3 linked regions of the Homo sapiens genome follow. The protein of the gene in region 3 interacts with the protein of the main gene of each other region in a pairwise test. Each region holds a gene or a part of one and is shown on either strand. Other genes may lie near its edges.

Region 1 (7,000 bases), on a different chromosome or scaffold from region 3:
ACCAGTCCCAGGGCATGGGAAGGTAGGTCTTTGCTTTCTTAAGTAATCTGAGTATCACTGACTCCATTACATTCAGGAAGGTGAGACCCAACTGTTCTACTGGACTTGAGAGAGAGAAGGGCACCAGCAATGTACTAGCTGTGTGACCTTGGGCAAGTTACTAAGCCTCTCTGAATCGGTTTCCTCATCTACAACATGGGCCCCTACACTCAGACGGGATGATGGGAGGATGCAGCGAGATAATGCAGGTTAGGTGCAAGCTGGATGCTGGTACAGAGTAAGCCCTCGAGACCCGGCACTCTTATGAGTATCTCTCTACCATCCTCTCCACTTCCTTGAGTCTTCATCTCACCGAGATCTCCAGTTCTCTCCAACTCTGGCTTGTGGGCTTGCATGAGTGATGGGGTTGTGTAAGCTCCTGGGACACAGAGCTCCCACTGTCCTGACACGTGAGCAGAGTTAAGAGGGACTCCCCAGGCTCACAGCAAGACTGACTCCTCCAGAATGCCCAACAATGGCCTTTAGAGGGTCATCAGGACCAGAGGCTCTGCCCCGGCCTATGCATGGGGGCAGTACAAATGCCCAGCCCTTTACCAACCCCTAAATCCTGACTGAGATGAAGGAATGCCATTCTACCCAGGTAGCACAGCCATGGCTTCCCTGCCTGCAGACACTGAGTCTGGTAACCCTTGTCACCTGCCTTTACACTCAGCCTGCCCCACCCTCGCTCCATTTCGGTGATCAATTCATCCACTGAATGGACATTTGGGGGTGGAGCGAGTGGTGATAAATGCACATTAGGAATTGATCAGCAGTGCTCACTGGCAGCCTTATCTTCCTGGGCTTGCAAATATTTCTACATCATCTAAGGCAGTCTGGCCCAGCTGGTGACCCCGTCTGAATGCAGAAGTACAGAGGCGACAGCCCTGGGATAGAAAGAAGGGAAGGCACAGTGAACACTCTGGCTCTGACCCCGAGCCTCACTGCATACATCCCGTAAAACTGGGTCCTTTTACCCTCAGTATCAAACTAGGAAGCTAAATTAAGCTAACTGTCTACTATCTCATGCAGAAATATGGGACGTGCACTTTTTCACCCTTTCTGAGCAGTTCCATGTGAAATGCTTGCTGCAGACTCAACTCCTTTTTCTCCCTCTCTCTTAGGACCTCCACCACCTGCCTGACACACGGATAAAGCATAAAACTGATTTTCTTAAGGCCAATAATTGTCGTTCCTCATGAGGAGTGTCCTCTTCAAAATGATCATCGTGGATTGCCAGGCACTCCTGTGCAGAGCTGCCATTCACTCCTTTCTGAAATGCCTCTTCTGGGCTCCTGCCTTCAGAGACAGCTGACACGGCTCCTAGGAGAGCAAGTCTCATTACTGGAGGCACTCTTGATTTCTGATCACCTATCTCATTCATCAGACTCAGCCCCATGACTTACCATTGCTTACAAGAATCAAATCAACCCTAGGAAAATTAAAATATGTTACCCTTATATAAAGTCAAAATGACATGCCATGGGCTCTCAATGTACTTTCAAGAGAGGGACCGTGGAAACATTTTCTGCAGAAAAATCAGCATGCGGCCTCCCAAGGTGACTGCTTGGAAGGGTGACACATTAAGGTATGTACAACCAGGTTCTTTCAAAGGAAGTATCAAGCACATTACAGGGAAAACCCCCAAACTGCATGCCACAGAGGTTATTTTCACATAATGATTAAGCCCAGATTTCCAGCTTGATTAGCCTGCAGTATCTGGGCCCAGAGCTGAGAAAGGGCAAAACTGGCGTCTATGAATGAGCTTCCGTGGCTTGCAGAGCTATATTCTATGCAGGGGGCCAACCCAGAAGATAACCCTGAAATCACACACACATATACACACGCACACACACGTCCACACACACGCACGCGCACACACACACACACGGCCACTGGATGGCGGGAGGTCTCTGGCCTCTCACAGAGCTGAACTGCATTGATCCGGTAGGTCTCAGCATTCAGCATTTCCACTCATCTCTGGGAGAGAGAGAGAAAGCATTCACAGTCTGAATTTTTTTTTTTTTTTTTTTTTTGAGACGGAGTCTCGCTCTGTTGCCCAGGCTGGAGTGCAGTGGCGCGATCTCGGCTCACTGCAAGCTCCACCTCCCAGGTTCACGCCATTCTCCTGCCTCAGTCTCCCAAGTAGCTGGGACTACAGGCGCCGCCACCAAGCCCGGCTAATTTTTTGTATTTTTAGTAGAGACGAGGTTTCACCGTGTTAGCCGGGATGGTCTCGATCTCCTGACCTCGTGATCTGCCCGCCTCGGCCTCCCAAAGTGCTGGGATTACAGGCGTGAGCCACTGTGCCTGGCCCTGAATTTTTAATGACAGATTTCTGCCCACAGTTTCATTCGGTGACTTTTTGCCCCAGTCCACAACTCTTTGGTTGTGCTGTTATTTTCCTTCTTCAATAGTCCGCATTACTCAGACCTTATAAAAGGATTATGCTTAGATTAGGTTATTGCCCTTAAGAAAGGAACGTGAAAAAACTGCAAAAGGAGCGGGGAAGATCGACAGAAATCATTTTAGTGGAGACATTCAGTGGAAACAGTGAACCAGGAGGGGTACAGAAACGTAGGAAAGAAAGAGAAAGGAGAAGGCTGTAACTCACATCTCTAAGGATCCCAAAGTTATTTGGTGATGACTAACCAAGGAACGTGCAAAGAGTAAAGAAGCAGAATATATTTTCATTGAATGAGATGAGTCTGAGCGCTAGAACACAGGCGCCCTGGCTTAACCTCCAAGCTCACCCACCCACTAGCTGGGCTCCTTGGCACTGTGACCTAGCCTCTCTGAATTTCAGTTGCCTCACTTGTAAAACTAGGTAACGAGATTAAATGAATTGCCTGCAATGAAAACGTTATAATTCTGTAATAGATGACAAAAGAATAGAATGTACTACCCTGCTTTTTCAGAAGTTCTGGTTTCACTTCGAGAGATTAAAAAAAATAGAGTTAGCAATGTATCCTGAATTGTTTTAAAATTAAGCTTGCTCAAGGGTTGAGTTCAAGGGACTGAGACCCTCTGAGGATTCACTGGTAACCCTTGTACCCAGGCCTCTTATCTCTCTACAATATCTGCAAAGAAAGACACTAGAGGCCAGGCTCCGTGTCTCACACCTGTAATCCCAGCACTTTGGGAGGCAGAGGTGGGCAGAGCATGAGGTCAGGAGATCGAGACCATTCTGGCTAACATGGTGAAACGCTGTCTCTACTAAAAATACAAAAAATTAGCCAGGTGTGGTGGCGGGCGCCTGTAGTCCTAGCTACTTGGGAGGCTGAGGCAGGAGAATAGCTCAAACCAGGGAGGCGGAAGTTGCAGTGAGCAGACATTGTGCCACTGCACTCCAGCTTGGGCCACCAAGCAAGACTCCATCTCAAAAAAAAAAAAAAAAAGAAAGACGCCAAAGAGGTGAGGTCATAAACGTAACTCAGGAAGAAATAATGGGGTGGAGTTTCCCAAGGTAAAGAAAAGAGGGGAAAAATCACAACAGAAACTACAAAACGTACTTAGTCTAAATCCTCATATATTCCACCCAAGCACAACCCCTCCCACCACCACCAACCAATCTGAGACATCTTACATGCTTGTAAATTGAAACCATCATTTTGTGGTTCCAGAGGTGATATATCATCAAGGGCTATGAGCAAAATTGTAAGACAAAATTCACCATAATTTCAAAAATGGATGGTACAGGTGTTTGAATGGGGAGAGGGCAGCAGGGAAGGAGGGTGGTGACCTCCCATAGCCAGGAGCACGGTGGCAGTTCCAGCATGTGGTAGGAATTCTTGCAGACTATAGAAATTGAACTAGAAAGGGAAGACCTAAATACAATCTGCCAGCCCCTGGAAAATCAGGCGATGGAACTGGAAGCATGAAGCTTCTTTTGTTGTGGTTCCCTTTTATTCCGGATCCGTAGGACTGTCCGTCTGGAGCTAGTGAATTAGCCTCTTTCAATCAGATCACTTTCTCAGCTGTCTTAACCACTGTTTCCTGCACAATTGATTTGAATCCACTGCACGGTCAATCCGATCTCTCATTAAAACCAGTTGAATACAATGAATTAGGCTTTTTTCTCTAGCTGTGTCTTGGCAGCCTAGAACAGTGGGTAAACTTGGTACCTTAGCAGTCGATTCCCAGAAATGAATGTGCTCCCCACCTCGGGTAGGGTAAGAGGGGAGAAAGGGATGGGTGTGAAGGCCTTCTGAGCTTGGGGAGGGGCAGGAAGGGACATGAAGACAGTGAGCAATGTGACCAAGGAGAATTGCACAGTGTAGGGAATTTGAAAAGTATTTGCATGGTTGCCCTGCTAAAGCAAGAAGGAACCCTGCTAACCTCATATATCAAAGGCAACATGTGTCTTATAAGCTTATATGGTGTAGTATGAAACACATCTTGCCCAGGGAAGGTGAGCAGGGCTCATTTGTTAAGTGAATGTCTGCGTGTGTCTGCAAGAGTCAGGACAAACCAAGCCTGTGGCACATGAAGGCAGGGCAACGTCACTTTGTCCCTTCAGTGGGAATAATCAACCTCTCACTGGATTGCTTTCCTCCTTTCGCTATTTTTGCTTCTTTCTGCCTTCCCAGCATCCTTCCCCTAGCCCTTCCTCCATAAGACTTCTCCAGTTCTTCCACAATTTTCCTCTTTCCCTACAAGCATTTATTTTTTCTTTTTATTTTTTGAGACTGAGTCTCGCTCTGGCCCCCAGGTTGGAGTGCAGTGGTGCGATCTTGGCTCACTACAACCTCTGCTTCCCAGGTTCAAGGGATTCTCCTGCCTCAGCCTCCCGAGTAGCTGGGACTACAGGCGCATGCCACCACACCCGGCTAACTTTTTGTGTTTTTCGTAGAGACGGGATTTCACCGTGTTAGCCAGGATGGTCTCAATCTCCTGACCTAATGATCCACCCACTCTGGCCTCCCAAAGTGCTGGGATTACAGGCGTGAGCCACCGCACCCGGCGAAGCATTTTTTTTTTAACTCAAAGAAAAAAGAAATAAAGGCAAGGCTAAAACTTTCAGTCCAAGGCAAGATGCTTTTTTGTTTCTTTCCTTCTATATTTGAAGTAGAAAAATAAGTCGACTCTCTATTTAGATCAATTCATTATAGTGAGCTCACAGTGCTTCAAAAAACGCAGTGACTTGACAATTTGTTGCCCAGGAGCCTAGGAAGAGAACTCACTAAATCAGCCAGCGAAGGGGCCCTGCCACTGCAGTTATGTGGCCTGTGAGGAAATAACAGAGCTCTTTGAGTTTCTAATTAATTTCTGGAGGGAGAAAGAGTAGAACAAAGTATTCCCTTGACTTCTTCTAGAAATAAGCAAGAGAACCAACCCAAGATGAAGGGGTCACCTCCTAATACTTTTTCCTGTTGATATCCACCTGGATTTTTCTTCCCACCCACCTAGATATCCACCCCCCCCACCCTGCCCACATTCTTTGATCCCCTCTGCTCCTGTGCAGGCAGTGGAAGGACCCAGGGCAGCTCTGATTTCACCAACTGCGTCTCCAGCATCCTAATAGCTTCCTGACCCATCTGTTAATTAGCCATTAAAAAAAGCCACACAGTTCCTCCCTCAGAATGATTCTCATCTCCAAGACACTAATGAATCAACTCAGGGTGAGGAGGAAGGAACAGGTTTGGATGTGAGACAGCTAGCACAAAAATGAATGTCAAAAAGGACCCAGGCTCCCAGGCGGTTTCCTGGGTGCAGCCCATGCCCTTGGCGGCCCTCCCAGAACAAAAAGCCCCTCAGGGGAGCTGTGCGGAAGTCAGTCAGGAAATAGCAAAATCTGTGGATGGCTGCAGCTTGAGCCTTAGCCCGGGCAGTTTGGAAGAAGGGAAAAGTGAAGTGGAGATCCTGGTAGGAATTGGGCTTCCGGTTGGGAAAGGCAGGCACGGCTGCCCTGGGGCTCTCTGGCCACATCCAGCACCCAGCTCTGCCTTTCAATCCTGTGCCCATCTCTTCCTCCTCCACGGAGTCCAGCTAGCTGAGTCGGACTTGGTACTCATCTATTAGAATCACAAGAGAGCTGACGGTTTCCCCCACAGACACTGATTTCTCACTCAGAAACACGATAGCAAGGTCTAATCACTTCTGGAAATGATGAAATATCTTCCTCCCTGAAGGAGTAGAGAGATGAAAGGAAGTCCTACCCTAAGGAATGTGTGTGCATGGGCAGGCGGAGGGCTGTCCAGCCTGGGAGCACTAAGGCAGATGCAGATGGCCCATCCGTTCCCTTCACCCCTGCTCACACTCCCATAAATGTCCCTCTCCAATGAGGCTGTTCTCACTGAAACTCCCTCAGACTCAGCCCCTGTCTGCCCACCTATCATCTTCAGGGGGAAGCACACACTGAAACCGGTTTGTCTTTCTTGTTCAGAAAGGAAACATCTTTGCTGAGCTATTTCAAGGAATATGTAACTGCATGCACATCCGCTTCCTCTCTTGACCTCTCGAGAGTGTACATTCTTTCTCCTCCCCACTTTCCCTAAGGAAAACTCATTACGGTGTGAATATTTCTCTGTCTCTATCACTCCCTCCTTTTCCCTACCTTGATTGCCCAACAAGACAGTCTACACAAAAATACTCCCCAGAATGGCAAACGGTGGTCTCTGAGGTGTGAGCAAAGTGAGAAGAGTGGTGTAGTCACACTCACCCCCAGGAGTCTGAGATCAACTTGCACACTCACCCTGACGTGCCCCGGAAGCAAGAAGCTGAGTTGGGACATTGTGCTTCAGTTACCCAGAACTGAAAAATAAGTTTCCCTGACCTGCCCAAGGTCATTCATGGAGTGTCGTAGATGGATCCCCCATGCCCTGTCCCCCTACCACACACAGACAGGCATTGTCCCCTACCCAACAGGCACGGATATGATGGTTTCCAAAGCACTGATCAGGCAAGACTGCAGCTGCTGGAAGAGAGGCTGTGAACTGAATAAAATCAGGTGGTGAACTTG
Region 2 (7,879 bases), on a different chromosome or scaffold from region 3:
CCGTGGCTTCTAAGAGTTCAAGTGAAAGGAAAAGTTGCAGGTTTCTCCCTTTAAATAAAAAGCTAGAAATGATGAAGTTTAGGGAGGCGGCATCTTTCATAGCTAGACAGGAGGAGTCTGCCTTCAAAACCTTCAAAGGATGGGCTGACTCTCTTGCTAGGAGCTAATGCAGCTGATGACTTCAAGTGGGAAGTCAATGCTCATTTACCATTCTGAATATCCTAGGGCACTTAAGAATGATGCTAAATCTTTTCTGCCTGTGCACTACAAACGGAACGACAAAGCCTGGACGACAGTGCATCTGTTTATAACATGGTTTACTGAATATTTTAAGCCCACTGTTGAGACCTACTGCTTAGAATAAAAGGTTTCTTTCAAAATATTTCTGCTCATTGACAATGCATCTGATCACCCAAGAGCCCTGATGGAGCTGTCCAAGGAGATTAATGTTTTTGTGTTTGCCAACACAACATCCATTCCACAGCCCATGGATCAAAAACTAATTTTGACTTTCAAGTCTTATTACCTAAGAAATATATTTCATAAGGCTATAGCTGCCATACAGAGTGATTCCTCTGATGGATCTGGGCAAAGTAAATTGAAAACCTTCTGAAGAGGATTCACTATTCTATATGTCAATATTTGTGATTCAAGAGAGGAGGTCAAAATATCAACATTAACAGGAGTTTGGAAGAAGTTGATTCCAACTCTCATGTATGATGTTGAGGGGCTTAAGACTTCAGCAGAGGAAGTAACTATAGATGTGTTGGAAACAGCAAGAGAATTAAAATTAGAATTGGAGCCTGAAGATGTGACTGAATTGTTGCCATGTTATGGCAAAACGAACGGATGAGGAACTGCTTCTTATTCATGAACAAAGAAAGTGGTTTCTTGAGATGGAAACTACTCCTGGTGAAGATGCTGTGAACATCACTGAAATGGCAACAAAGGATTTGGAATACTACATCAATTTAGTTAATAAGGCAGTGGCAGGGTTTGAGAGGACTGACCCTAGTTTTGAAAGAATTTCTACTGTTAAAATGCTATCAAACAGCATCACATGCTACAGGGAAATCTTTCATGAAAGGAAGAGTCAACTGATGCGGCAAACTTCACTGATGTCTCATTTTCAGAAATTGCCACAGCCACACTAACTTGCAGCAATCATCACCCTGATCAGTCCTCAGCCATCAACATTGAGGCAAGACCTTCCACCAGCAAAAAGATTATAACTTGCTGAAGGCTCAGATGATCCTTAGCATTTTTAGCAATAAAGCATTTTTAAAATTAAGTTATATACATTGTTTTTAGGCCATAATGCTATGGTACACTTAATAGACTATAGTATAGTGTAAATATAATGTTTACATACACAGAAAAACCAAAAAGTTTGTGTGACTCACTTTATGGTTACATTTGCTTTATTGTGGTGGTCTAGAACTGAACATGCACTATCTCTGAGGTATGCCTGTATCTTCCTCTATCTCAGTGGGTCTCCAAACCACCTGAAGGACATGCTAAACACAGGCTGCTGCATCCCAGCCCCAGCCTCAGAGTTTCTGATTCAGCCAGTCTGGGATGAGCCTGAAAAACTGCATTTCTTTTTTTTTTACATTTTATTTTTATTTTTATCAAAGCAGTGTATCTACATTGTTTAAATAAAACAACATTAAATAGCAAATATTTAAAAACTGCAACATCTATGCCTTCTTTCTTTCTTTATTGTTATTATACTTTAAGTTTTAGGGTACATGTGCACAATGTGCAGGTTAGTTACATATGTATACATGTGCCATGCTGGTGTGCTGCACCCACTAACTCGTCATCTAGCATTAGGTATATCTCCCAATGCTATCTCTCCCCCGTCCCCCCACCCCACAACAAATGAGAACACATGGACACAGGAAGGGGAACATCACACTCTTTTTTTTAAAAATTTTACTTTAAGTTCTGGGATGCATTTGCAGAATGTGCAGGTTTGTTGCATAGGTATACATGTGCCATGGTGGTTTGCTGCACCTATCAACCCATCATCTAGGTTTTAAGCCCCGCATGCATTAGGTATTTGTTCTAATGCTCTCTCTCCCCTTGCCCCCCATCCCCCGACAGGCCCTGGTGTGTGATGTTCCCCTCCCTGTGTCCATGTGTTCTCATTGTTCAACTCCCACTTATGAGTGAGAACATGTGGTGTTCGGTTTTCTGTTCCTGTGTTGGTTTGCTAAGAATGATGGTTTCCAGCTTCATCCATGTCCCTGCAAAAGACACGAACTCATTCTTTTTTATGGCTGCATAGTATTTCATGGTATATATGTGCCACATTTTCTTTATCCAGTCTGTCATTGATGGGCATTTGGGTTGGTTCCAAGTCTTTGCTATTGTAAATAGTGCTGCAATAAACATACTTGTGCATGTGTCTTTATAGTAGAAAGATTTATAATCCTTTGGGTATATACCCAGTAATGGGATTGCTGGGTCAAATGGTATTTCTGGTTTTAGATCATTGAGGAATCACCATGCTGTCTTCCACAATGGTTGAACTAATTTACACTCCCACCAACAGTGTAAAAGCTTTCCCATTTCTCCACAGCCTTGCCAGCATCTGTTGTTACCAGACTTGTTAATGATCACCATTCTAACTGGCATGAGATGGTATCTCATTGTGGTTTTGATTTGCATTTCTCTAATGACCAGTGATGATGAGCTTTTTTTCATATGTTTCTTGGCCACATAAATGTCTTCTTTTGAGAAGTGCCTGTTCATATCCTTTGCCCACTTTTTGATGGGGTTGTTTGTTATTTTCTTGTAAATTTGTTTAAGCTCCTTGTAGATTCTGGATATTAGACCTTTGTCAGATGGGTAGATTGCAAAAATTTTCTCCAATTCTATAGGTTGCCTGCTGACTCTGATAACAGTTTCTTTTGCTGTGCAGAAGCTCTTTAGTTGAATTAGATCCCATTTGTCAACTTTGGCTTTTGTTGCAATTGCTTTTGCTGTTTTAGTCATGAAGTCTTTGCCCATGCCTATGTCCTGAATGGTATTGCCTAGACTTTCTTCTAGGGTGAAAACTCACATTTCTAACATGTTCCTGAGTCAGGTTGATGCTGAGAGTGACTGATAACACCTTATTATAATAATTATAGTTTTTGGGTGAGAGGATTAAATGGGCAAATTAATGCCAAGCACTCAGCACCATGCCTGGTATTTGTATACATTCCACAAGTGCTGGCTATGATTCTGAAGGGTGGCCTGATGAGTCTCATCCCTTGTAGTTGGTATTGCCATCACACCTCCTTCCATCTGATGCTATAATCTTCTCTAAATAGGTAATCCAGACAAGGTACTGGAATTTGTAGTTGTTGCAGAGAATCAAATTGTGAGAGTATTTGATCTGACCCCCTCGATTGGCATGAAGAAACTGAGGTCTGGAGAGACAAAATTACTTTCCCAAGGCCAAATGGCAAGTCAGAGGCAGTATATCTACGCTCTCCTTTTCTTATGCAATGAATGAGCTGGGTGGCATTTTCCCTTTCCTGTTCTTGTACTGACATTTCTGGGAATATGTGAAACATAAGGCAAGTACTTATACCCCAAAATTATATCAAGAAGATTACTGAATAAAAAAGTGGCTATATAGCACACACATACTAAATGTGAAGCTCACAGCTTTTGCAGCCAGGACTGAAAACCACTGCTCTAGCATGTTGCCTTCTTAAGTGAATGCCCAGGGCTTCTATAGTTGGGCAAATATGCTCCCTGTCTCCTGGCTTAGCTCATTCCAGGGCTATAGAACATCCTTTCCCAAGGGAGTGGATTCACACTGCTTCCATAGTCTGAGATCCTGAAGTGAGCCTTCCCCATCTGCCACAACAGAAAGTAAAAGTAGAACCTGTTCCAACTATTCTCAGTCTGTTCAACAAACAATTATTGAGCACTTGACAATTGTGTATATGGTGCAGTGATAATTGAATGGATGGTCCAGAGGGGGTCAAGACAGAGCAGCTGCCACCTGGAGATGTTCATGATATGGACTTTTCCAAGAGGAAGAGACCAACTGGAAAGATGTACCTGATTCTTAGGCTTCTGTTTGGGTCTTTTTTTTTTTTTTTTTTTTGCCTTTTGAAGGGGTGCAGCATTCCTGGAGGTACTGCAATACCAGGTCAACATGTAGAGTGAACAGAGCAAGCTCTTATTCCATCTCCCTGCTCCCAAAATCCATTTAATATGTTGTCCTCAGATGGAGGACGTATCAGATATTAAGACGATAAGAACAGATACCACACTTGATCTTAGCCAAAAGGCTGAGAAGTGATGCTGCCTATGTCTTGAGTTCATTCTCTCCCCACTGATATTATTTTCTTCCCCTTGGCAGGAAGATGATGTCTGTTAGGAAGCCTCTGAGGTTCCTGTTCCTTTCTGCTGGATTTATGCCGCTGCCAGCATCGGAGCAGTTTCTACCACCCACACATTTCCTTGTTAAATAGCCAGGCCTCTTCCCATGGGGAATGCTTTCATTAAAAGAGGCAGCCACTGCTGCACAGACCTGCAGGCTTCTCAGGGCTAGAGCAGGCGGGGGTGCAGTGGGCAAAGCCAGTGGAGGCACAGGCTGGGTTGTGGCAGTCTCCTGGAGGGCCTGCCCTAGTAATGAGGGCCCAGGCATGCGGCTGACCCTTTGAAGATGTGTCCTGAAGCTCTCTCATGGTGATCAATGACAGGAACCCAGACTCCTGCTTTAGCCAAATGATAAGTTTGGCCTCTTTTATTGGAAACCAAATTACAAATTAATTAGCAGCTTCCTCTGGGGCTGGGTGTGAACATCAACACCACCCAATGATGAATTTCTATCATGAGCCCCCTCACTGCAAGGGCATAAAATGGCCCGGGCGGCATGGGGTCTGTAGACATCCAGGTAGCTGTGGCTGAGGAGAAAGGGCCTCTCCAACATGACATCCTCCTGCTGTGTCACCAACAACTTGCAAGCCTCTCTCAAGAGCTGCCCCCGGCCTGCCTCGGTCTGTTCCAGCGGCGTGAACTGCCGGCCTGAGCTGTGCCTGGGCTATGTCTGCCAGCCCATGGCATGCCTGCCTTCGGTCTGCCTGCCCACCACCTTCCGGCCAGCCAGCTGCCTCTCCAAAACCTATCTATCCAGTTCCTGCCAGGCAGCCAGTGGCATCTCCGGCTCCATGGGCCCCGGCAGCTGGTACAGCGAAGGGGCCTTCAATGGCAATGAGAAGGAAACCATGCAGTTCCTTAACGACCGCCTGGCCAGCTACCTGACGAGGGTGCGGCAGCTGGAGCAGGAGAATGCGGAGCTGGAGAGCAGGATCCAAGAGGCCTCTCACTCCCAGGTGCTCACCATGACTCCTGACTACCAGTCTCATTTCAGGACCATTGAGGAGCTCCAGCAGAAGGTGAGGGCAGCGGTGAGGTGAATAGGCTCTCTGGGAAGGGAACTGGACTAGCTGGCATTCCAGATTGGAATCTCGTTAGCTTATTAAGCTATGTTCAGGACAAAGAGACTTCCCTAGGGCATAGGGTTATTTTATAATTTGAGCACTCAGCCTGAGGCTTTCATGTGGAGAGATCTGGGATCTAGTCTCAGTTCTACCATTGCCTCATTGCATGACTTTGGGGGTCCCATCCCTTCCCCAGGCCTCAGTTTTCTCATCTGTAAAACAGGGATAATAATGGTCGTTATCTAATGGGGTTGTCAAAAGGATTTGATGAGATGATGCAGGTCAAGTGCTTGGAACAGCCCCTGGTCCACGGTAAGTTTTCAGTAAATGTCAAAGACCCTTCTAACTGTCACATGAGTGACTTCAGACATGAGATTCTTCCCTTCCACATTGCTTGGCACATCCAAAATGGGGAATTTGAATTTACGAAGCTTCAGGTTCTTAAAAAATACATCTCAAGTTCTCCAAGGACTAGCAATTCGCTAAATATCTCCCAGAGTTCCAGGGAAGAGGACCTTCTGCAGGGATGGCTGCAGGGCTGCTGGATCCTACCTTTGCTGCTGTCTTCTCTTCATTTGGGTTCTTCTTGCTTCGTCTCATCCTGAACTAACCCTCTCCATGTGCCTTGGCCTACAGATTCTGTGTACCAAGGCAGAGAATGCCAGGATGGTTGTGAACATTGATAATGCCAAACTGGCTGCCGATGACTTCAGGGCCAAGTGAGTTCAGTCGGGGGGCTGGAGCTGGGGAGGACCTGTCCTCATAGGCTCTGGGGCAACTTTCCATTAGTTTCACGGAGGGTTGGAAAGTGCCGGCAGTTTAAGGCCTTCCCTGAGTTCTGCATTCTGTTTCACCCTTGGTTGCTGACCCTGTCCTTGTGCAGGTACGAGGCAGAGCTGGCCATGCGGCAGCTGGTGGAGGCCGACATCAATGGCCTGCGCAGGATCCTGGATGATCTCACTCTGTGCAAGGCTGACCTGGAGGCCCAGGTTGAGTCCCTGAAGGAGGAGCTGATGTGCCTCAAAAAGAACCATGAGGAGGTGAGGCTGGAAGTCCCGCTGAAGTGGCCCCGGGAAGCAGAGGGGGAGGAACGTGGGGTATGGGGTTGGATAGGCGTGGGTTGAAATTCCCAAGCCTGCCACATGTTGTTTTAGTGACTTTGCCCAATTTATGGAATCTTCCTGAGCCTCCTCTTCTGTAAAATGGGGACAACATGATCACGCAGGGTTATTGTGAGGATTTAATGGACAGGATATGGATCATGGAAATCCCCAAGGCATGGGTATGAAACACCTGCCACTTGGTCAACTCTCAGAAGTGTAGCCCCCTTCCCTTCTGCATTTCCTGGGCTAGTGTGACTGCCAAGCACTCACTAGTGGCAACTGCATTTTTTTCTCTCGAGAGCCACACAGCAGAGGTAGAGTGGTGCAGTGGTGCCGGGGTGAGTTATGTTCCAGATCTCACGTTGAATGGCCTGTCCATCTCTGCCTGGCTCAACTCTCAGAAGCAGTCCCATCTCTTCTGAGAGGGAGTACAGCTGCAGTGGTCTCCTCTTTTTGCCCCTATCCTTATTTTGTCCTCCCTTCTGTTTGCATATAAAATGCTCAAGCTGAAGCCCTTTACTTTCTGATTTTTCCTTATCTCCTGAAGTTTCTTGGAGGGGAAGCCCTCTGCTTTGGGCACCTGTGTGCTGCCAAGCCCACCTGAGCCATGGTGTTTTTCCCCCCTCCCTGGTTGACTCTCAACCTCTTGACTTGGGATTTGAATGAACAAGTGCCTCTGAATCTTGGCTGGGTTTCCTCAGGCTTAAGTGTAAAGTAACAATCAGTCACCACGTACTCACCGAGCACCCTCGGGCTCCTGACTCATCTTGCTCAAATCAGAGAACTGGGAACGGCACCAAGAAGCCACTAATGAGAAGTTATCACACATCCTGGCAGACTCAGTGACAACTTTCCCTCTTTGGCAGCCAAGCCTGGGAGGCAGCTGCCCTAACTCGGGCCTTTAACTAGTCAAGCCAGGCTCCTGCTACCCTCCTCCCAGGATGAACACAGGTGGGGAGGGAGACTGGGAATACTAGGGGTACCGGTTTCCCATTTTAGCCCAAATGCATCAAACAAACCAGGGTGCTGCTCTTGGCTTCTGCCAAAGTGATAGGAAGTGTTGTGTTGCAGTGAGGTTCCCATCGCAGGGGTATTCAGCTGGAGTTTGAAGAGCACTGGGATGCTGCTGAGTGGACTGCAGTCCTTAGGGGCCATCTAATGTTTCAATCTTTAGCAACTTTTGTTGCATCTTTTCATGTCTCCCTGGGGAGGTGAGCCAGGATCCTATCATTGTCACATTTTTCTGGAGGTCTTGTGCCTTTTCAGGAAGTCGGTTCCCTTCGATGCCAGCTTGGGGACCGCCTTAACATCGAGGTGGACGCT
Region 3 (7,927 bases):
TCAAATCTTTCCATCAATAAACACAAACATCCTCCTATCTATCTCAATCTTATCCATCGTAGTAGGCAGTTGAGGAGGACATAATCAAACACAAGTATGCAAAATCCCAGCCTGCTCTTCAATTACTGAAATAGGCTGAATATTAGCAGTACTAATATAAACCCAAATGTTACCATTTTTAACCTAATTACTTTATTCTAACAATTACCCTCATTTACGTGCTTATCACAACACAACAATCATGTCTTCCCCATTTACTCAACAAAGCACATGAACCTGTTCTTCTTGGCAGTCAAATTGGATTGAATCAGGTTTGTAAGTGAAGAAAGCCTTGTTCAGAGTTCTCTCTTTCTCTTTCCATGGTTAACCAAAGCCCTGTGCCCCTCCCTCAGTGCACTATGGGTAGGCAGGGAGGTTATTTTGTTTCACTTCCGCAGTGGCCCCATCCCACCCAGAGGCGCCCGGCTCTTCCTGGTATCAGCCCTGGTGGGAGGGAGTCCTTAGGCACAGGGAATTCAGCCCAAACGCCCCTGGGTCTACAGAAGCAGCTGCACTCACCAGGCCAAGGCCTCCTCCGCCGTCTTCCTCCCCGTGGCTGCCAACGCTTTCAGCCTGCAGAAGAGCAGACACAGACACAAAGTCACGTCGCCCATTCTTGGGAAAAGGGTCAGAGAGGCAGGGTGTGGCCTTGCACACCCAGGATCTTTGGGGGGTGCTCTGAAGAGGGCCTGATGCTGAACTTCCAGCTGGAAGTTCTAGCGCCTGTCCCCTGAGTGCTGCCATCGTGGTTTTGGACAATGCTGACCAGCTCACACCTCCCCCTCACTGTCCTTCCCTGGCTACCCGCTTCAGCCCTTGGCACGGGGTCTCAGGGCTGAGGACCTGACCTCCGCCCGCTCCTGCAATCCCTCTCCCTGGCCTGCCCCCCCCCCCCCCACTGCCTAGATCAAATGGACCCACCCTGCGGAACGTGCCCCTGGCTCGGACACACGCTTTCCTCACCCCAGCATCAGCGACCCTGATCCCCAGGCTCGCCTCCCACACCTCTCTGCTGGGAAACAGCCCTTTCCAAAGCACCCAGGCAGGCACTTGTTACGGCTTACACAGTCCCCTTGCACCCACGGCTCTCCCCTGCTAGACCAAGAACTCCCTGAACACAGGACTGAGTCTTATTCATCACGGTAACCCGGGACGTAAGTACATTGCATTGAATTGGGCAGAACTGGACCAAATGAAACAGAATGGAATATAGCAAAGGTAATTTATCAGGAATGCAGACTGGAAACAGCGGGCGTCCATGAGGAACCCACCACATGATGCCGAATGCTGCTATTTGGGTGGGCACCGATGGGGCTGTGGCCACCTGGAGAGGTTTGAACAAGGCAGCCTTGGTGCAGGGCACTTACTATGAGGTGCTCTGGTGTGGGGAAATTAACACACATTTCTCTTCCTCCAACATGTGCTTAATGTTTAAACTGGAAGGAATTTTGAGTAGAAGTCCATGCTATACGTTTAGTAGTAAAATCCAGCGTGGACTCCTTCAAAGGCATGGAAAGCTGGTTCGGGTTCCACCTCCGCCACTAATGCACTCTCTGGGCCCAGTGTCCTGCCTGCACTGGGTGGTGAGCAGTGGACAAAAGCTGCCTTGTCTGTAATGCCTGGACGGTGCCCGGTGGCCGCCCTGCACATGCCTGACCCCACTCCCCATTCAAAGGCCCCTGGCTTAGCTTGAACATAACAGTGACGACAAAGCCCTGATTTGGGGAGAAGAAATGGGTTTGTCTAGCTTCAGAGTTACTTCACCCAATTTGGCCAAGCTTTTGTTATAGTGTGGAAGGAAAGTTTAGCTCCTTCCCCAACCCAAAGTTACCTAAAGTGTGTTTCTGATACATTTTTCCATGTGAAAAAATGAATGGGTCAGATTTAAAGTGTGTTTCTGATACATTTTTCCATGTGAAAAAATGAATGGGTCAGATTTAAGGCACTGGTTTGCCATGAAAGCTGTAACCCAATGTTGGTGTCGTGGCCTCCCTCTCCGAGAGTGGTAACTCTGAAGGCTAAGCTCTTCCACATGCAGGCCTTTCCCTTGGGTAAGCAGGGTCGCGCTCACACTGTGTCTGAAGTTTCCTACCCATTTGTTTCGTTATCAGACACTCAAGGGATTGTCTCTGAGGACAAGTGACTTTCCCCGGGCAGCGTGGAAGCACAGCCCTGCTGACAGTTGGTCCCAGTGTTAGAGACTCAGCGGGCTTTGGGGCCTTTCACGTTAGAGTTTGAATATCTTGAAACGCCACTTTCAGAGTCACTGAGCTGCACACAAAGAGATTACAACCAGGCCCCAATCTCCTCCAAACCCCCAAAATGGGGCACCCAGAGTAATACATGGCTTCTGATTTTCACAAATTTCAGGGTCCCCCAGTCAGCCAGCCGAGCTGGTCTTTAAAAGGTCAAGAATATCAGGGGTATTCTTGTGCCTCCCTGGGCCACACATAAAATACGCTAACACTAATAATAGCTAATGAGCTAAAAAAAAAATCTCATAATATTTTAAGAAAGTTTACCAATTTGTGTTGGGCAGCCAACACAAATTGAACAGGGCAGCCTTAGGAGGCTGAGGTGGGATGATGGCTTAAGCCCAAAGCTGTCCTGGGCCTCATGTGGGTTGGACAAGCTTGGTCAAGATCACCTCATTTACGAGAAGCAGAAGAGGGCCCTGTGAAGAGGCAGTGTCTTACCCTGCAAGGTGCACTGCTTTGGCAGGAAGCCGTACCCTACACCCCTGCAGCTCCATGCCGGGGGCCGCAGCAGGGTCTGGCACCAGCCTTACTGGCTGGGCCCCGGGGTCTCTGGGCAGTACTCACGCGGTGTGCACCGGGAAGCCCATGGCCAGGAGGGGCTCCAGGAGCGAGGGGCTGCTGCGGCTCTTGAGCTTGTTGGAGACCTTGGCGTAGAGCTGCGTCTCCCCCGCTGCCATCTCTTCCTGCCCTTAGGCCAAGAAGCTCGCCTGCACACAGAAATGAGGAGATAAAGCAAGAGGGGGAGAGGCAAGGCTGAGGCTGTGAAGAAAAACCTCAAGCTCTTTTTGATCTTTCTGACAAAAGTTGATATCCTGTTTGCATGAGATATCAGTTTTCAGAATTCTGTTTGCAGGATGCTGGGTGCAGCGTCCACCAATCCTAACTGTTTCCACCACGGGAGTTTGAGGCTAAAGGTCCAACCGAGCCCCTGCACGGGATCAGCCTCTGTAGGGACTTGGCTAGTATTCGGGAGCAAGAATGCGTGAGAGCATGGGGGAAGGAAGCGGAGGAGAAGTCAGGGAATGAGTTCCCTCCTGGATCCTGCTGGCCCCCTGCCCTGACCCACCCTGGATCCCAGTCTCCTTGTCTGTGAACAAGACATTAAACCCCACTCTATCTATTGTCTCGGATTGCTGGAAAACTTACTGGTTCTTTCAGTCATTCATTGACTTGTTTTTTTATTTTAAAAACTTTAAAAGCTTTATATGTGTACAGAAAAGTTGATGAATCATATGTGTATAGCTCAAGGAATTTCCATAAATGAGCCCACACCCCTAATTCCCCCACGACCCAAAATCAAACAGGGCAACCAGGGGAATTTTGTACCTCCTCCACCCAAGGGGACATTTGGAAATGTCTGGAGACATTTTTGTTTCCAAAATGAGGCGGGGGTGGTGGTGGGTGGGGTGGACATCGTGGTACCGGCACTAGTGGGTAGAGGCCGGGAATGTCACAGTGCCCAGGACAGTCTCCCCAACAAAATTTCACTAGTGCCAAGGTGGAGATAGCCTGCTCTGGAACATTCTCAGAACCTCAGATGCACCTCTGCCCCCAGCTCAGCCTCCTCCAGTTATCTCCTCCCTCCCCCAGAAAGTAAACTGCTGTATCACTTGTATATGAATTGTGCCTGTGGTTGAGCCTTATGTAAATAGAACCATATAGCATATTCTCTATCATATCTCATTTCTTTTTCCTCAAATTATGCCTGTAAAATTTATCCACATTATTGCTTGTAGCCACAGTTAGTTCACTGTTATTGCTGTGTAGTATTTGATTAATAAATATACCAGCCAGGCGTGGTGGCTCACGCCTGTAATCCCAGCACTTTGGGACTTTGGGAGGCCAAGGGGGGGGTGGATCACCTGAGGTCAGGAGTTCGAGACCAGCCTGGCCAACATGTTGAAACCCTGTCTCTACTAAAAAATACAAAAATTAGTTGGGCATGGTGGTGCATGCCTGTAATCCCAGCTACTCAGGAGGGTGAAGCAGGAGAATCATTTGAACCCAGGAGGTGGAGGTTACAGTGAGCAAAGATTGCATCACTGCACTCCAGCCTGGGACAGAGTGAGACTCCAGCTCAAAAATAAATAAATAAAATAAATATAACATAATTCATTTATCCATTTCTCTGTTGATATGCATTCAGGAAGTTTTCGGTTGTTTTGCTATTGTAACTAATGTTGCTGAGGACGTTCTTGTATGTGTCTTTGAGTGCCTTGTGCATGCATTTCTGTTAGGTGTGCATCTAGGAGTGGGGTTGTTGGATCACAGAGCACGTGAAACTCCATTAGGAACTGCCAAGCAGTTGTACAAAGCTCTATATCCTCATGCACACTTAATATTATCAGTCCCTAATTTTAGCCACTCTGTGGTGGGGGTGGTGTGTAGTTGTATCTCCCTGTGGTTCCCATTTGTATTTCCCTGAGGGATAATGATATTGGGCACCATTTCACAGGCTTATTGCCCATTTGAATATCCTCTCTGGGGAAGTTCCTGTTCAGATATTCTGCTCTTTTTTTTTTTTCACTAGGGTGTTTGCTTTTCTTATCAATTTGTGGGAACTCTGGTTAGAGTTTTCTGCATCCTGTTCAAGAGATTGTTGTTAATCCAACATCGATGAAGATCATCTATGTTTTGTTCTAGAAGTTTTGCTACTTTTGCTCTTCATATTTAGCTCTATGATCCATTTGAATTCATTCTGTGTATGGTGTGAGGTAGGGGTAAACTTTCATCTACTTCCGCATTGAAAGGGCTATCCTTTGCCCAGTGAATTGCAGTAGGAGGCTTATTGTAAATCAAGTGACTGTATATGGATTAGTTTTTTCTAACTTGTGTGCTCTCTTGTTTGATTTGTCCCTCTTTGTGCCCATTCTACACTGTTTTAATCACTATAGTGCTAAACCCTCTGGTTTTGTCCTTTGCTTTTTCATAAACATTTACAAATCAGGTTGCCATGGTGTGTCATAGTGTGTCATTGGGTAGTGCAAAAAGATTCACACCTACAATCAATTGATTTTCAACAAGGATGCCAATGAAATTCAATGGGGGAAGGATAATGCTTTTGATAAATGGTGCTAGAGGCTCAGCCCATAATCTCAGCAGTTTGGGAGGCCAAAGTGGGAGGATCACTTGGGCCCAGGAGTTTGAGATCAGCCAGGGCAGCAGAGTGAGACTCCGTCTCTTAAAAAAAAAAAAAAAAAAGACATGGTGGCATTAGTTCCAGCTACTCAGGAGGCTGAAGTGGGATGATGGCTTAAGCCCAAGAAATCGAGGCTGCAATGAGCTGTGATTGCATCACTGCATTCCAGCCTGGGTGACAGAATGAGACCCTGTCTGAAAAAAAAAAAAAAAAAAATTAGTGCTAGGAAAACTGCATATTGGTAGGAGGAAAAACGAACCTCAACCCTTACCTCACATTATATACAAAAATTAACTCAAAATGTAAATGCTAAAACTATAAAACTCCTTAAGAAAACCTAGAAAAAAAATGTTTGCTATGTTGGAGTTTGCAAAACTTTCTTAGGACATAAAGCGAATAAACCAACAAAAGAAAAAGTTGATGAACTGTACTTCACCAAAGTTGAAAACTTCTGCTCTTTGAAAGACATCTTAAAGAGTATAATAAGGTGAACCACAGACTGGGAGAAAGTATCACTATACATATAGCTGACAAAGGACTTGTTTCTAGAATATACAGAATATTTTATATATACTTATAACAAATAATAAGAAAACAAGCATCTATTTTAAGAATGGGCAAAGTATCAAAAAAGATACTTTTAAAAAGAAGATATATACATAGACATGAAAAGATGCTCAACATCATTAGTCATCAGGGAAATGCAAATTAAAACCGCAATGTGATTCCACAGCACACCCACCAGAAGAGCTAAAATGGAAAATACCAGGTTTACACAAGGCTGGGGAGTAACAGGAGCTCTCACACTGTGCTGGTGGGAATGCGTAACTGTCCAACCACTTTGGGGAACATTTGGAGGGTTTCTTATAAAGGTAAATATACATGAAAACGTGTGTCCACACAAAGATTGGTCTATGAATGTTCATGGCAGCTCTACGCATAATAGTTCCTTCTATTTTTTTTGCCTTTATTGCACTGACTTGGAACCCAAGTCAAATGTTGAACAGATGTGGTACTAGTGCACCTTCTTGTATAACTCTCCATTTCAGAGGACAAGGTCTCAATATTTCACCATTAAATGTGAGCATATTGTGATATTTATTTGTATAGTTTTATTTTCACTTTTTTGAGGCAGAATCTCACTCCGTCACCCAGGCTGGAGTGCGGTGGCATGATCTAGGCTCACTGCAACCTCTGCCTCCTGGGTTCAAGTGATTCTCCTGCCTCAGCCTCCCGAGTGGCTGGGACTACAGGCGTACACCACCATGCCTGGCTAATTTTTATATATTTAGTAGAGATGGGGTTTCACTATGTTGGCCCGGCTGGAACTCCAGACCTCAGGTGATCCACCTGCCTCAGCTTCCCAAAGTGCTGGGATTACAGGTGTGAGCCACTGTGCCCTGCCTGATTTTTAAATAATATTCTTTTGGGGCCGGGCGCGGTGGCTCATGCCTGTAATCCCAGCAATTTGGGAGGCTGAGGTGGGCGGATCATAAGGTCAGGAGATCGAGACCATCCTGGCTAACACAGTGAAACCCTGTCTCTATTAAAAATACAAAAATATTAGCCGGGCAGGGTGGTAGCCTGTAGTCCCAGCTACTTGGGAGGCTGAGGCAGGAGAATGGCGTGAACCTGGGAGACAGAGCTTGCAGTGAGCTGAGATCACGCCACTGCACTCCAGCCGGGGTGACAGAGTGAGACAGTCTCAAAATAATAATAATAATAATAAATAAATATAATAATAATATTCTTTTTACTGTACGTATTTAAGGTGTACAATGGGATGTTTTGCTATATTCATAATAGTGAAATGAGCGCTGTCATCAAGCAAATTAACATATCTATCATCTTGCATTGTTACTTTTTTTACTTTTTTTTCATGGTAACCGAAACTAAAATCTGCTGTGGGCAAATTTTCAGTATTCAATAAGATATTATACCTCTGGCTGTCAGCTGTATCTTCCGTCTCTGGACTTCTTCATCCTACACATCTGCAGCTTTGCACCCTTTGATCCACACCTCTCCATTTCCTGCCCCTACACCCTCCCCTGAGAACCCCACTTTATTCTCTATGTATTCAACTTTTTTTTTTTTTTTTTTTTTTTTTTTTTTTTTTTTTTTTTTTTTTTAAGATTCCACATATAAGTGCGATCCTGCAGTATTTGTCTTTCTCCGTCTGGCTTATTTCATTTAGCATAATGTCCACACACTTCATTATCCTTTTTCTTTGAGGAATTCAAAAGATGAAATAATTCCACAATCAAATGATTTATCTTGAATTTGAAAGTCTGCAAATAGAGAAAGCTTGTGACCCAGAGGGAAAAAGTAGATTTGGGTATGAAATATAGTCTCTACTCAAGTATATTTTTCTCTTCTAAATAATAAACCCTGTTTTGAGCAATTGTGTTATGTTTATAACATATTAAAATGAAAAATGCTTCTATGCATTTCTCTTAAAAAAATCTTATTTGTGTAGGCCAGAAGATGCCTA

The links. Proteins that work in one complex are often made in the same cells at the same time.
Region 1: the proteins of UBASH3A (region 3) and SHISA6 interact in binary tests that used the Homo sapiens proteins (3 or more experiments, as listed by UniProt).
Region 2: the proteins of UBASH3A (region 3) and KRT32 interact in binary tests that used the Homo sapiens proteins (3 or more experiments, as listed by UniProt).

What each region holds. Positions count from the first base shown.
Region 1 is NC_000017.11:11,244,213-11,251,212, reverse strand, and holds part of SHISA6 (protein shisa-6 isoform 1 precursor), read right to left. Parts: intron 1-7,000. UniProt on the Homo sapiens protein: Involved in maintenance of high-frequency synaptic transmission at hippocampal CA3-CA1 synapses.
Region 2 is NC_000017.11:41,464,387-41,472,265, reverse strand, and holds the start of KRT32 (keratin, type I cuticular Ha2), read left to right. Parts: upstream 1-4,879; 5' UTR 4,880-4,940; coding exon 4,941-5,408; intron 5,409-6,089; coding exon 6,090-6,172; intron 6,173-6,336; coding exon 6,337-6,493; exon of another isoform or gene 6,494-7,507; intron 7,508-7,822; coding exon 7,823-7,879.
Region 3 is NC_000021.9:42,398,993-42,406,919, reverse strand, and holds the start of UBASH3A (ubiquitin-associated and SH3 domain-containing protein A), read right to left. Parts: upstream 3,019-7,927; 5' UTR 2,975-3,018; coding exon 2,862-2,974; intron 613-2,861; coding exon 559-612; intron 1-558. UniProt on the Homo sapiens protein: Interferes with CBL-mediated down-regulation and degradation of receptor-type tyrosine kinases. Promotes accumulation of activated target receptors, such as T-cell receptors, EGFR and PDGFRB, on the cell surface.